Linked DNA regions of Homo sapiens. The protein of the gene in region 3 purifies or fractionates together with the protein of the main gene of each other region. This does not show direct contact. Each region holds a gene or a part of one and is shown on either strand. Other genes may lie near its edges.

What was found.
Region 1: the proteins of MYO9A (region 3) and NUP98 purify together in Homo sapiens (affinity purification with mass spectrometry; one large-scale study listed by BioGRID and IntAct). This does not show direct contact.
Region 2: the proteins of MYO9A (region 3) and MAPK6 purify together in Homo sapiens (co-immunoprecipitation; one large-scale study listed by IntAct). This does not show direct contact.

Annotation. Positions count from the first base shown.
Region 1 is NC_000011.10:3,675,485-3,679,136, forward strand, and holds part of NUP98 (nuclear pore complex protein Nup98-Nup96 isoform 1 precursor), read right to left. Parts: intron 1,137-3,652; coding exon 1,025-1,136; intron 893-1,024; coding exon 675-892; 3' UTR 1-674. UniProt on the Homo sapiens protein: Plays a role in the nuclear pore complex (NPC) assembly and/or maintenance. NUP98 and NUP96 are involved in the bidirectional transport across the NPC. May anchor NUP153 and TPR to the NPC.
Region 2 is NC_000015.10:52,057,127-52,060,778, forward strand, and holds part of MAPK6 (mitogen-activated protein kinase 6), read left to right. Parts: exon of another isoform or gene 1-129; intron 130-1,506; coding exon 1,507-1,671; intron 1,672-3,652. UniProt on the Homo sapiens protein: Atypical MAPK protein. Phosphorylates microtubule-associated protein 2 (MAP2) and MAPKAPK5.
Region 3 is NC_000015.10:72,048,546-72,052,197, forward strand, and holds part of MYO9A (unconventional myosin-IXa), read right to left. Parts: intron 1-3,652. UniProt on the Homo sapiens protein: Myosins are actin-based motor molecules with ATPase activity. Unconventional myosins serve in intracellular movements. Regulates Rho by stimulating it's GTPase activity in neurons.

The DNA.
Region 1 (3,652 bases), on a different chromosome or scaffold from region 3:
CCAAGGGTTCCTGCACATAGTAGTAGCAAAGGTATGGTGTTCATGGAACTCTAAAGGCAGGAACAAAAACAGCCCTGAAGATCAATCCCTCCGTGACAGGCATTCACTTCTGCCCTAAGTGTGTCAGAAAGATCCCATTTTGTTTCCTAACTCAGGCCAACCCTCCTTTGCCTCCAAAATTCAGTGTTAACTAACCAATTACTTAAGAGACGGATCCCTCTTCCTTCTGTGGATAGTTCATCTGTTAAGGATCCATTATCACCTGTCTCACTCCTCCTAAGGAGTCCTAGTATAAAAGGGCCAGGGTAGGAGTAGGGAAGCTGGTTGGCATGGAGGGTCACAAGATCCAGAATGGCTAGGGATGGAAAAAGAATACCCTGGTTCTTTGGGGGATTCTGCCAAAGGAGCTTTATTGACCATTTTTTTAAAGGAAAAACACTGAATGATCTTGAGGATGGTAAACTGTCTCCTCTTCTGGGTTCCAGAAGCCCTTATGCTACGTTCAGTATTAAGAAAAGCCCTGAACAAGTGGAGGATGCTGCTTCTGGCAGCAGGGAGGGAGGGTAGATGCCACAGCCAACCCAGAGAATGGCAAACAGTGCCAATCCAAACAAGGCAGGGAACCTCTGTGTGGTGTGAATGGGCATGTGACTGTGATGCAAAGTGCCTGGGGCTCACAGGCTCCCAACAGCCAGTTCTCGCAGATAGGACTGGGTAAGGCTGCGCAGTTCGTCCATGGCATAGTCCTCAGGCATGGGAAGCCGGCCAATGTGGGGAGCCAAGAGGCGCAAAGGGACTCGCTGAGGGTCTGGTGTTGAGTCGGAGGTTCTATCAGGAGGATGATGCAGACTCAGCACCACGCGCAGCAGGTTGGCTACACGTTTGGCCATGTCTAGAGAGAAAAACTAGAGTCAAGCACTGAGCATGGGGTCTGGAGAAGGGTGGTAGGCACTGAGGGTGGGGTGTAATAATCATAAAAACAGGAAGCAAGAAGGCAGAAAGAGTGAGGAGGTTAGAGGCTTACCTGACTGAGCCAGGCGATCTTTAGCACTGTAACACTGAATCTGCTCTATCCGACTGCACAGTGAAGTCACTTTGATGTGTAACTGCTCCAGGTCATTACCTGAGCAATCCACCTACAAAGAAGCAGAGAAGCCAATTAATCCAAGGGGAGTTCCTATCACTCCAATCCCACCTATAGACTCTACACAAAACCTTGAAACAACAGTGAGGTGAGGGAGGGGAAAATCCAAGATGATGACACAGGGCCAAGCCACCACCATCTAGTGGAGGACAAGGCACTAATTATGCAGTAATAGCCAAGAGGAAGGTAACACAGTTACCTAGCCTTGGACTAGGAAAAGTCTTGAGATCCCGAACTATACAGCAAGCTTTAATAACACAGCACCAAAAATCAAGATAAATTGGGTTCAGAGAGATGGTATGACTTCTAAAGAGCACACAAGGAAGTAAAAAATGCAGCCAGAACCAACATTTAATTTAGGTCCCCTGACTCCAAGTTTATAGCCTTTTCTAAAACACCAAAAAAGCTGTGTGCAGGGGGCAGGAGGATCAAGAGCAAGACAGGTTATTTGCTCTCATGAAACTGATAGAAAATAAATAAGAAAACACAAAACAGTAATAAATCCTGAAAAATCACAAGCCATGTAGATAATTTAAACAGGTGGATGTGGCAGAGAGAAACTGGATAGCTACTTGAGACTGGAGGACCAAGAGAGGCTTCTTTAAGGAGGTCATATTTAAATTGAGACCTGAATAACAAGGAGAGAGCTCAGCTTTCCAGGCAAAGAGAAGACAGCTAAAACCCCCAAAGGTGGGAATTCAAAGGAGATTTACATGGTGACATGTAGGGTAAGGAGAAGAAGCAGAACAAGATAATACTAGAGAGTTTTTATGTAACATAGGTTTTTTTTTTTTTTTTTTGGGAGAAGGGGGGTCTCGTTATGTTGCTCAGGCTGGTCTCAAGCAATCCTCCTGCCTCAGCCTCCCAAAGTACTAGGATTACAGTCATGCACCACCACATCCAGCTATGTGCTGGCACATTGATAGTACCCTTTGCTTAATCCCTATACTTATCAAGCTATAGTAATTGCTGCTTTACTTGTATGTATCTCCCCCACAAAATCATTATTTTGGTAAGGGCAGAACACATACTGTTTACCTTTATATTCCCCAAACCCACTACAGTGCTTGGCATACAGTGAGTTCTCCATAATAGGTTGTGTGAATGAATTACTCAATATTCAATGAGAAAGTGGTTTCTTCAAGTGATTATTTAGAAATGATGTTCTTGATTCATACTAAAAGTACAGCAAACATTGAATTATGTCTATTATGTGCCAGGCACTGTACTAGGAGTTGGAACTTTGATGAGGATAATAATAGATAACAATTATTAAGCATTTAGTAGAGGCCGAGGTCAGGAGTTTGAGACCAGCCTGGCCAACATGGTGAAACCCCGTCTCTACTAAAATACACACACACACACACAAAGCTGGGTGTGGTGGCACACGCCTGTAATCCCAGCTACTGGGGAGGCTGAGGCAGGAGAATTGTTTGAAGCTGGGAGATGCAGTGAGCTGAGATTGTGCCACTGCCCTCCAGCCTGGGTGACAGAGTAAAACTCTGCCTAAAAAAAAAAAAAAAAAGGCATTTAGTACATGAAAGGTACTATGTAAAACACTTCATGTAGATTTTGTTTAATCTTTGTGAAAATCTGTCAATATGAACTATAATCTGTACTACTGTCTACCCCACCCACCTTTTTCTTTCAGACGAGAGAGGTAGTTAACTTGCTCAAGATTACATAGCCAGTGAATTTGGAAGCCACAAATTGAATCTATAAGTCTGCTTCCAGAACTTGAGCTGTTAACCTCTACACTCTATTGCCTGTAACCGTAAAAGACCTTCCCAAAAGGGGCTTATAGCAACCTGAAAATATGAATAAGTAACTACAATATGGTCTGACAGGTGCACTAGTAGAATAATGTACTAAGTATCTTGGTAGTAAGAAAGTGCAATTAATTATCTCTGGGGAAAAGCAGAGAGAAGTAGGGGTAACAGCAACCTAGATCTTAAAAGGATGAGTTTAAGTGTGCTAGGTAGTGTGGAACATAATATGGTTTGTTAGAAACACCAGAAGTAATTTAGTGTGAGTACAGCAGGCTAGCAAGGCTGGAACGTGGAATAAGAGTGGTAGGAGTAAGGCAGGAAAGGTAAAAGCCTCTAAAAGGACTTGAATCCTATATTTATTATAATGAGTTTGGTTTTTGCACCATAAGCAAGCAGTGGAGACTCATTTTACGACTACAAAGACTGACCTTAAGGCTGCGTGCAGGCGTGCGGTAAGCTCATGCCTGTAATCCCAGCAATTTGGGAGGCCAAGGTGGGCCGATCACTTGAGGCCAGGAATTCAAGACCAGCCTGGCCAATGTGGTGAAACACTATCTCTACTAAAAATACAAAAGTTAGCTGCGTGTGGTGGCACACACCCTATACTCCCAGCTACTTGGGAGGCTGGGGCATGAGACTCACTTAAGACTGGGAGGCAGAGGTTGCAGTGAGCCACGATCACACCACTGCACTCCAGCCTGGATGACAGAGCAAGACTCTGTTCCAAAAAAAAAAAAAA
Region 2 (3,652 bases), about 20 Mb from region 3:
TTGTTACTGTCACTCTTACTATCCCTCCCCCGGTCCAGTCAGCCATTATGTCTCTCCTGTTAGAAGGACCTTCTCTTTCCTGCTTCAGTATTTGCTGTCTTTAGTTACCACATCGCAGCCAGGGTGGTCCTGTTGAAAGACAAGGTAGATCATGTCATCTCTGCTCAAACTGCATGATGGCTTTCCATCAAACTCAGGGTAAAGCAAACCCTTTGTTCTAGTACCACTCTGACTTATCTCCCATTATCTGCCCCAAGCTACTCTCCTTTTGCTACACTTGTCTAATTGTTGTTTCTTTGACATACCAACCTGCCTCTGTCTTCTGGGCTTCTCTCCATCTTCCTAGAACTCCTTTCTTTCTTCCATATGAATGTTTGGTGTATTCCTGACTTCCTTAATTTTCCACTTCTTAGTGAGGCCTTCCTTTGTCTCAAAAAAAAAAAAATGTCTTATTGTTGCCCAGGCTAGAGTGCAGTGACATGATCTTGGCTTACTGCAACCTCCTCCTCCAGGGTCCAAGCAATTCTTGTGCTTCAGCCTCCCAAGTAGCTGGAACTATAGGCATGCGCCTTGCCTGGCTAATTTTTGTATTTTTGGTAGAGATGGGGTTTTACCATGTTGGCCAGGCTGGTCTCGAACTCTTGACTTTAAAAAAGTATTAACAACCCTATTCTTCCCAACAGTGCCATCACCCTTAGCTTACTCTCTTTTTCTTTATAGCATATGTCACCATAAGACCTACTTTACAGAATTATCTGTCTTTATCCACAAGATTGTAAGATCCATGAAGGCAGGCACTTGGTCTGTTTTGTTTCATAACTGTATTCTCAAGTGTCCTGCGCATAGTAGGAACTAAAAGGAATTTTGAATGTTCAATGAATTTATAGACATTAAAGGAAAGGCAAGTGGAATTTTTATTTTTTGTTTTTGAGACAGGGTCTCACTCTGTCATCCATGCTGGAGTACAGCAAATGGAATTTTTAAAAGTCACCACCTATTTAGCCTAAAGTTTCCCCCTTTATTTCTTTCATTGCCTAACAACCTAGAAATGCTAACTGAGCCCTAACATAGAACTATAAAACTTCCTGTTTTACAAGTCTAGTCCAACCCTTCATTTCATTGATGTTGAAATAAAGTCCTAAGAGATGTTAGCTATTGTCTCTGAAGTTATAGCCAGTAAATTAGTGGTACAGTTAAGACCAGAATCCAGATCTCTTGAATCTCAGTTGCTTTTTTTTTCACTAGTTTGTGATAACCTTAATATGAGACCAAACTTAAAGAGTCAGTTCCCTATGGAAACAAAGCAGCAAAAACTAAATACATCAGTAAGCAGAAATTGAAATAGATAAGTAGATTGGTGATAGTCAAAGCAATGAAACCTGCTGATGATACAATTCAAACTTTTCCCCCCACTGGTCATTATAATATTTAAATTAGTTTAGTATGTTTATTGTGAAATAAGTAAACATTGAGGAATGTGTTTTTTTGTTTGTTTTTTAACCTCAGGTGCACATGAACTTGAACAGATGCAGCTGATTTTAGAATCTATTCCTGTTGTACATGAGGAAGATCGTCAGGAGCTTCTCAGCGTAATTCCAGTTTACATTAGAAATGACATGACTGAGCCACACAAACCTTTAACTCAGCTGCTTCCAGGAATTAGTCGAGAAGGTATTGTGACTCGAGAGTAACCCTCACGTTAATGCCTGTGTGTGAGGCAGAATCTGTGTAGGGAAGCTGGAGCTTTTTATCCTTAGATATGGGGCTTTCTCCAAAATAGTCTTTAGACACTTAAGGTGTACGTAAAACTTCAACTCTCATTTTCCCTTTTTTTGTCCTGTTACTTGGGCTACGATCTGTTTTTTTGGTTCCTCTGAATCACTTTCCAGAGCAAGTAGCAAGTATTTTGAATATAGGCACTGGGGACAAAATCATGATGGCATTTTTTCCCTCAGATATACTTGGAACTCCTGTAAATGCCTGGATAAAAAGAAAGCTGCTGTATTTAATTTCAGCCGGTTTTGCAGGCTTTTCAGTAGTTCCACATTCTTAATCAGTCTTTGAGTCTGTCTGCACAAATTCCATTGCTAGCTCCCTTGCTCGTAACCCTGTAGCCACTGTCACAACATCCCTGTTCATATCTAAATGAGTCCTCTGTGGGAACACTTTATTTTTATTTTTTATTGAAAAATAGAGACAGAGTCTTCCCTGGGCTGGTCTTGAACTCCTGAGCTCAAGCAGCCTTTCTGCCTCAGCCTCCCACAGTGGTAGTATTACAGGTGTAAGCCACCACACCTGGCCAAGGAGCACTTTTAAAATGCTGAACTAGTAATTCTGAATTGGGAGGTGGAGTGGGGAACAGGGTGGGTGTCTGCATACCCTCTCTAAGGTGTGACTCTGCTCAGCCAGGTGAAGACACTGTGTGCAGTGATAACCTGGATCCACTTCAGAGTAGTTGTCACTAATCAAGAGGACGGTGCTGTTGAAGCATTTGTAACCTTGCTGTATAATGCTATTTGAATCTTTTTCGTACCCTCATTAGGGTGGGGACCATGTTTTAATCTTTGAATTAAACTGAATATTTGGCCACTGACTGGGGTTTATTAACCATTGAGCAAAGATCCTTGGTGGTCACATGTGGCAGCACTGTGCTTGCAAGCAAGTGAATGCAGAGTGGATGGAGTTTCTGAGACTAAAGATTTATCAATTGTATGCTCCATACTACTTTCTTCTTAACAGTGGAGTTTTATTTTGGGACAGAGCACATTCTGAGGCAGTGGCAACTTGGTAAAAAGAATACATGTTCTCACCCCACATTCTTTATGATCTTTGAAGGAAAAAAGCAAACAGGATTAAGTACATCTGAGTGAACGTATAAGACTCCTAGGAGCCCTACTCTGGTTAATTTCCCTCTATACTTACCTCTCATCCTTTCTGTAGTATACCATATATTTCTCTAAGCATGGTTCAGCACCATTGTAGCATTCCTGTAGTCCTAGCTGTTCAGGAGGCTGAGGCAGGAAGATTCCTTGAGCCCAGGAGTTCAAGGCTACAATGAGCTATGATCATGCTATTGCACTCCAGCCTGGGCAACCGCAAAGATGCTGTGTCTTAAAATTATCTTTCTAAAGAAAAGAAAAGGGTTCTTTCTAGAGTACAGGTTGGCTTGAGAGAGAAAGGCCATCTTTCTCACTTAGAAGGCAAGGATAAGAGGATGTGTGAGTGACCATAGTGAAGAGGTAGGGATTGAGACAAATGTGAAGTGGGTTTATCTGTTGAGAATGATAAAGAAGACCGAGAGCATAAAGAGAAGGCCAGATAGCAAAGGTCACAATGAAATTGTTTAGTATGAATTTGTAATGAGCCAGATATGGGATATTGCAGCTAGTTTTCATCAGTTTTGTGTGGCCAGGGAGCAGAGAGAGTAGATGGTGGTGGTGATCCAGGGTTGAAGGTTGATATCATAAGGCATAGAAGTGTGTGGCTGGTGTAAATATAGCTTTCAGGCTGCGTGAGGAACTAAGGAAGGCCTACTAGACTATTTTATGGGAAGAACTGGATTTGTGGTTAACCAGAGTCCTAAGATGTGCAAGGTCAGTGTGTGAACTATGCTGGAGTGTGATGTGAAGCAGAGATCAAGAAATTAGTACAA
Region 3 (3,652 bases):
TCTGTACCTATCAATCTGTTCTGGGCTCTATAGTCTGTTCCATAGGTCTATTTTTCCACCCCTGAACCTCTGTTAATTACTACAGTCCTATAATAAATTTTGGTATCTGAAGGGCACATTACCTTAATGTGTTGTTCTTTACAAATTTTACCTTGGCTATTTACACTACCATAAAAATGTTTAAGTTTGCATGTTTACTATCGTGAAAAAAAACCTTTTCAGATTTTAATACTGCATTGACTTTACAGATTAATATTGGACAGAACTGACATCTAATTGACTCTTCTCATTCATGAACACCATGCTGTTGGCTTTTAAAAATTACAACTATATTTTTCACTTCTAAAGTTTTTGTCATTTTCAAATCCACCTCATCTTTTTTCCGCCGATTTACATTTCAAAATTATTTATACTTAAGGGCTATTACTCCTTTTCTTTTTGAAAACCCTCAGTATGTAATTTAATATTTTTCAGACTAACACTGAAATGTCATCCAGACGGAACTGCTCTTATGGTTATTTCATATCTTCCTTAGCATGAGATGAGTTCATATATTTGAGAATTTAGCTTTACAAGTGCACTTTTGATGGAACTTCTTTTGTTTTTCATACAAACACTTACTGAGAACATGTTTACTACTTTTTTAAGAGAACTACAGTATCATAAATATATTTTTAAAAATTAAAAATTTTGGTATTAAATGATCAATTGATATTCAAATTTCCAAATTTCCTCAGTTATCTCATAAATATTTTTCTTACAGATAGTCTAGCTGGAGATTCTGCTCTGCAATAACAGTGAGGATATACTCTGAGTTACCAGGTTCCTAGTTGTATAGCTATGTTTGCTTTCCTGAATCCCTAAGTGTTTGCTTCATATACGCTATGGCATCTGGCAGCAGTCAGCAGCAAATCTTCTTACAGCCAGGGAGGCTGTGACCTGTACCACTCCAGGAGATGTACTAAGTTAAGGGGTCCCCAACCTCTGGGCCATGGACCAGTGCCAGTCCATGGCCTGTCAGAAACTGGGCCGCACAGCAGAAGATGAGCAGCAGGCAAGTAAGCATTACTGCCTGGGCTCTGCCTCCTGTCAGATCGTCAGCAGCATGAGATTGTCATAGAAGCATTAAGCACTATTGTGAACTGCATATGCAAGGGATCTAAACTGCATGCTCCTTATGAGAATCTAACTAATGCCAGAGAATCTAACTAATCATCTAATACCTGATGATCTGAGGCAGAATAGTTTCATCCCAAAACCATCCCCTACTACCCCATCTGTGGAAAAATTTTCATCTATGAAACCAGTCCCTGGTGCCAAAAAGGTTAAAGACCACTGTACTAAGTAACTACAATCTAATCCCTAAAGTTGTATAATATGGCAGCCCTGGAAGTAAACTTAGAAACATCTTTTTTAACAGGAGTCCTATCTTGGACCACTGTTTCCAACAATAAGCCCAACTCTAATTACACTTCCCCATTACTTCAAAGCAGCCAAAATCACACCTGCTCCTTCCTGAAACAGAAGTGTTTACCTTTTTTGAGTCCTAGTTTTGTCAGTTTGGTTTTATCTTTGTTATTTTATCAATTACTGCTTTGTGGGTTTTTTTGTTTTGTTTTTTTTTTTACAAAAAGGAGGGTTTGTCTCAAAATACCACTCAGAAATCCATCTTGATCACAAGCCAGTCCTTACTAAACAGCTTGGAAAATCTGTACTTGCAAATCCGAGACATGAGCTTTCATCAAAATCATCTGGGGAGCTTTTTCAAAACGTACATTACCAGCCGGGTGCGGTGGCTCACACCTGTAATCCCAGCACTTTGGGAGGCCGAGGCGGATAGATCACGAGGTCAGGAGATCAGGACCATCCTGGCTAACATGGTGAAACCCCATCTCTACTGAAAATACAAAAATTAGCCAGGCATGGTGGTGGGCACCTGCAGCCCCAGCTACTCCGGAGGCTGAGGCAGGAGAATGGCGTGGACCCTGGAGGCAGAGCTTGCAGTGAGCCAAGATCATGCCACTGCACTCCAGCCTGGGTGACAGAGCAAGACTCCGTCTCTAAATAAATAAATAAATAAATAAACAAACAAACAAACAAAATTTTTTTTTAAATGTACATTACCAGGCTCAACAATAGTTATGAGTTGAGGAAATGCAGGTAATTCTGTTATTGCTGGTCCAGAAAATAGTATTTGAAAATCACCATATTCCCAAATATTTGGGAACTCACTTTCTACTCCCTTACCACTCTTCCCACATAGCAAGCTACTTGACAATGCTCCGGAGAAGTCACAAAATTCCACAGAGTTGGTAATCCAAAGGTCTTTCCTCATTCTTCATTTTAACACACCACACTATGGCATGACTAAAGCAGCCAATTTCTAGTTCTTGAAAGTGTACTCACATAGTTATTTTTCTTGTAGTCTTCCTGATAGTCTTGCTCTTTTTCTGACTCACTCCTACAGCTCCTTTTCCATTAACTCACTTTATTTTGTTGTTGTTTTGTTTTGTTTTTGTATTTGTTTTTGTTTTATAGAGCCAGGGTCTGTCTCTGTCATGCAGGCTGGAGTACAATGGCACAATCATGGCTCACTGCAGCCTCAACCTTCTGGACTCAAGTGATCCTCCTGCCTCAGTCTCCCGAGTAGCTGGGACTGTAAGTGCATGCCACCGATGGCAGCAGCGGCCCATCTATAGCGGCCACTGCCATGATACCAGCTGCAGTGGGGGAGGTGCAGCCAGGACTGCGTGCTCCATGGAGGCAGCAGAAGCCAGGAACAGGTGGGAACCCTGCCACCTTCTGAGTTGACAGGGCAGGAGTTTCGTGCTCCCTAGGTGCAGCTGCGGCCACCTGCCCAGGTGGGCTGCAGACCCAGGCATCACTGTGCTCTTGGGGGATGGGAGCAGGCAGGAGCCCCACCCTCCCAGGCACAGCTGCAGCCGCCCAAGCTGCAGCTGCAGACCCAGGCATGTCTGCACTCTCAGAGGCCCAGGAAGGCCCCCCGCCCAGTCCCTGCAGGCTCAGAGGTGTTTGCTCCCACTGCCTGGCCTCTCCTCACTCCCAGCACCCACTCCAATCTCAGAGAAAGGTTGGGTCCGAGACTGGGCACTGTCACAGCCTGGCCAAGTGTGCACACGCTCCAGATAGCACTGATACACCAGCCCCCTGCCACCTTGGCCCCCTCTAAACTTTGGGTGCCTACAAACACTAGAGGGAGGCTGAGGGGGTACTGAGGGCAGCTCAGTACCTGTAGGCACCCCCTGTCACAAACAGCCTGGGCACCATGAACAGCAGGAGGAGGCAGGCAGGCTCCTGGGCAAAAGGAGGCAGGTCCCTGGTGAAACCCCACCTTCAAGCCAGGGAAGGCCTGAAGCCTGGGGACCAGGCTTTCCATTGGCACCCGATGACCAGAGTGGGAACTTGTGGTGCTTTCTCCAGGCTCACCCATGGTTGTCAATGAACCAATCAGTACACACACCCTCCCTGCTGAGACCTATAAAAGCCTGAACTCAGCCAGACTTGGGGAGACAACCACCTGCCAGTTGCAGAGAAAAGGTGCCCACCCCAGGGTCTCCTCTCTGCCGGGAGTTGAGAAGATGATGGGACAACCAGCTGCAGGGAGAAGCTACCCACCCCAGGGTCTCCTCTG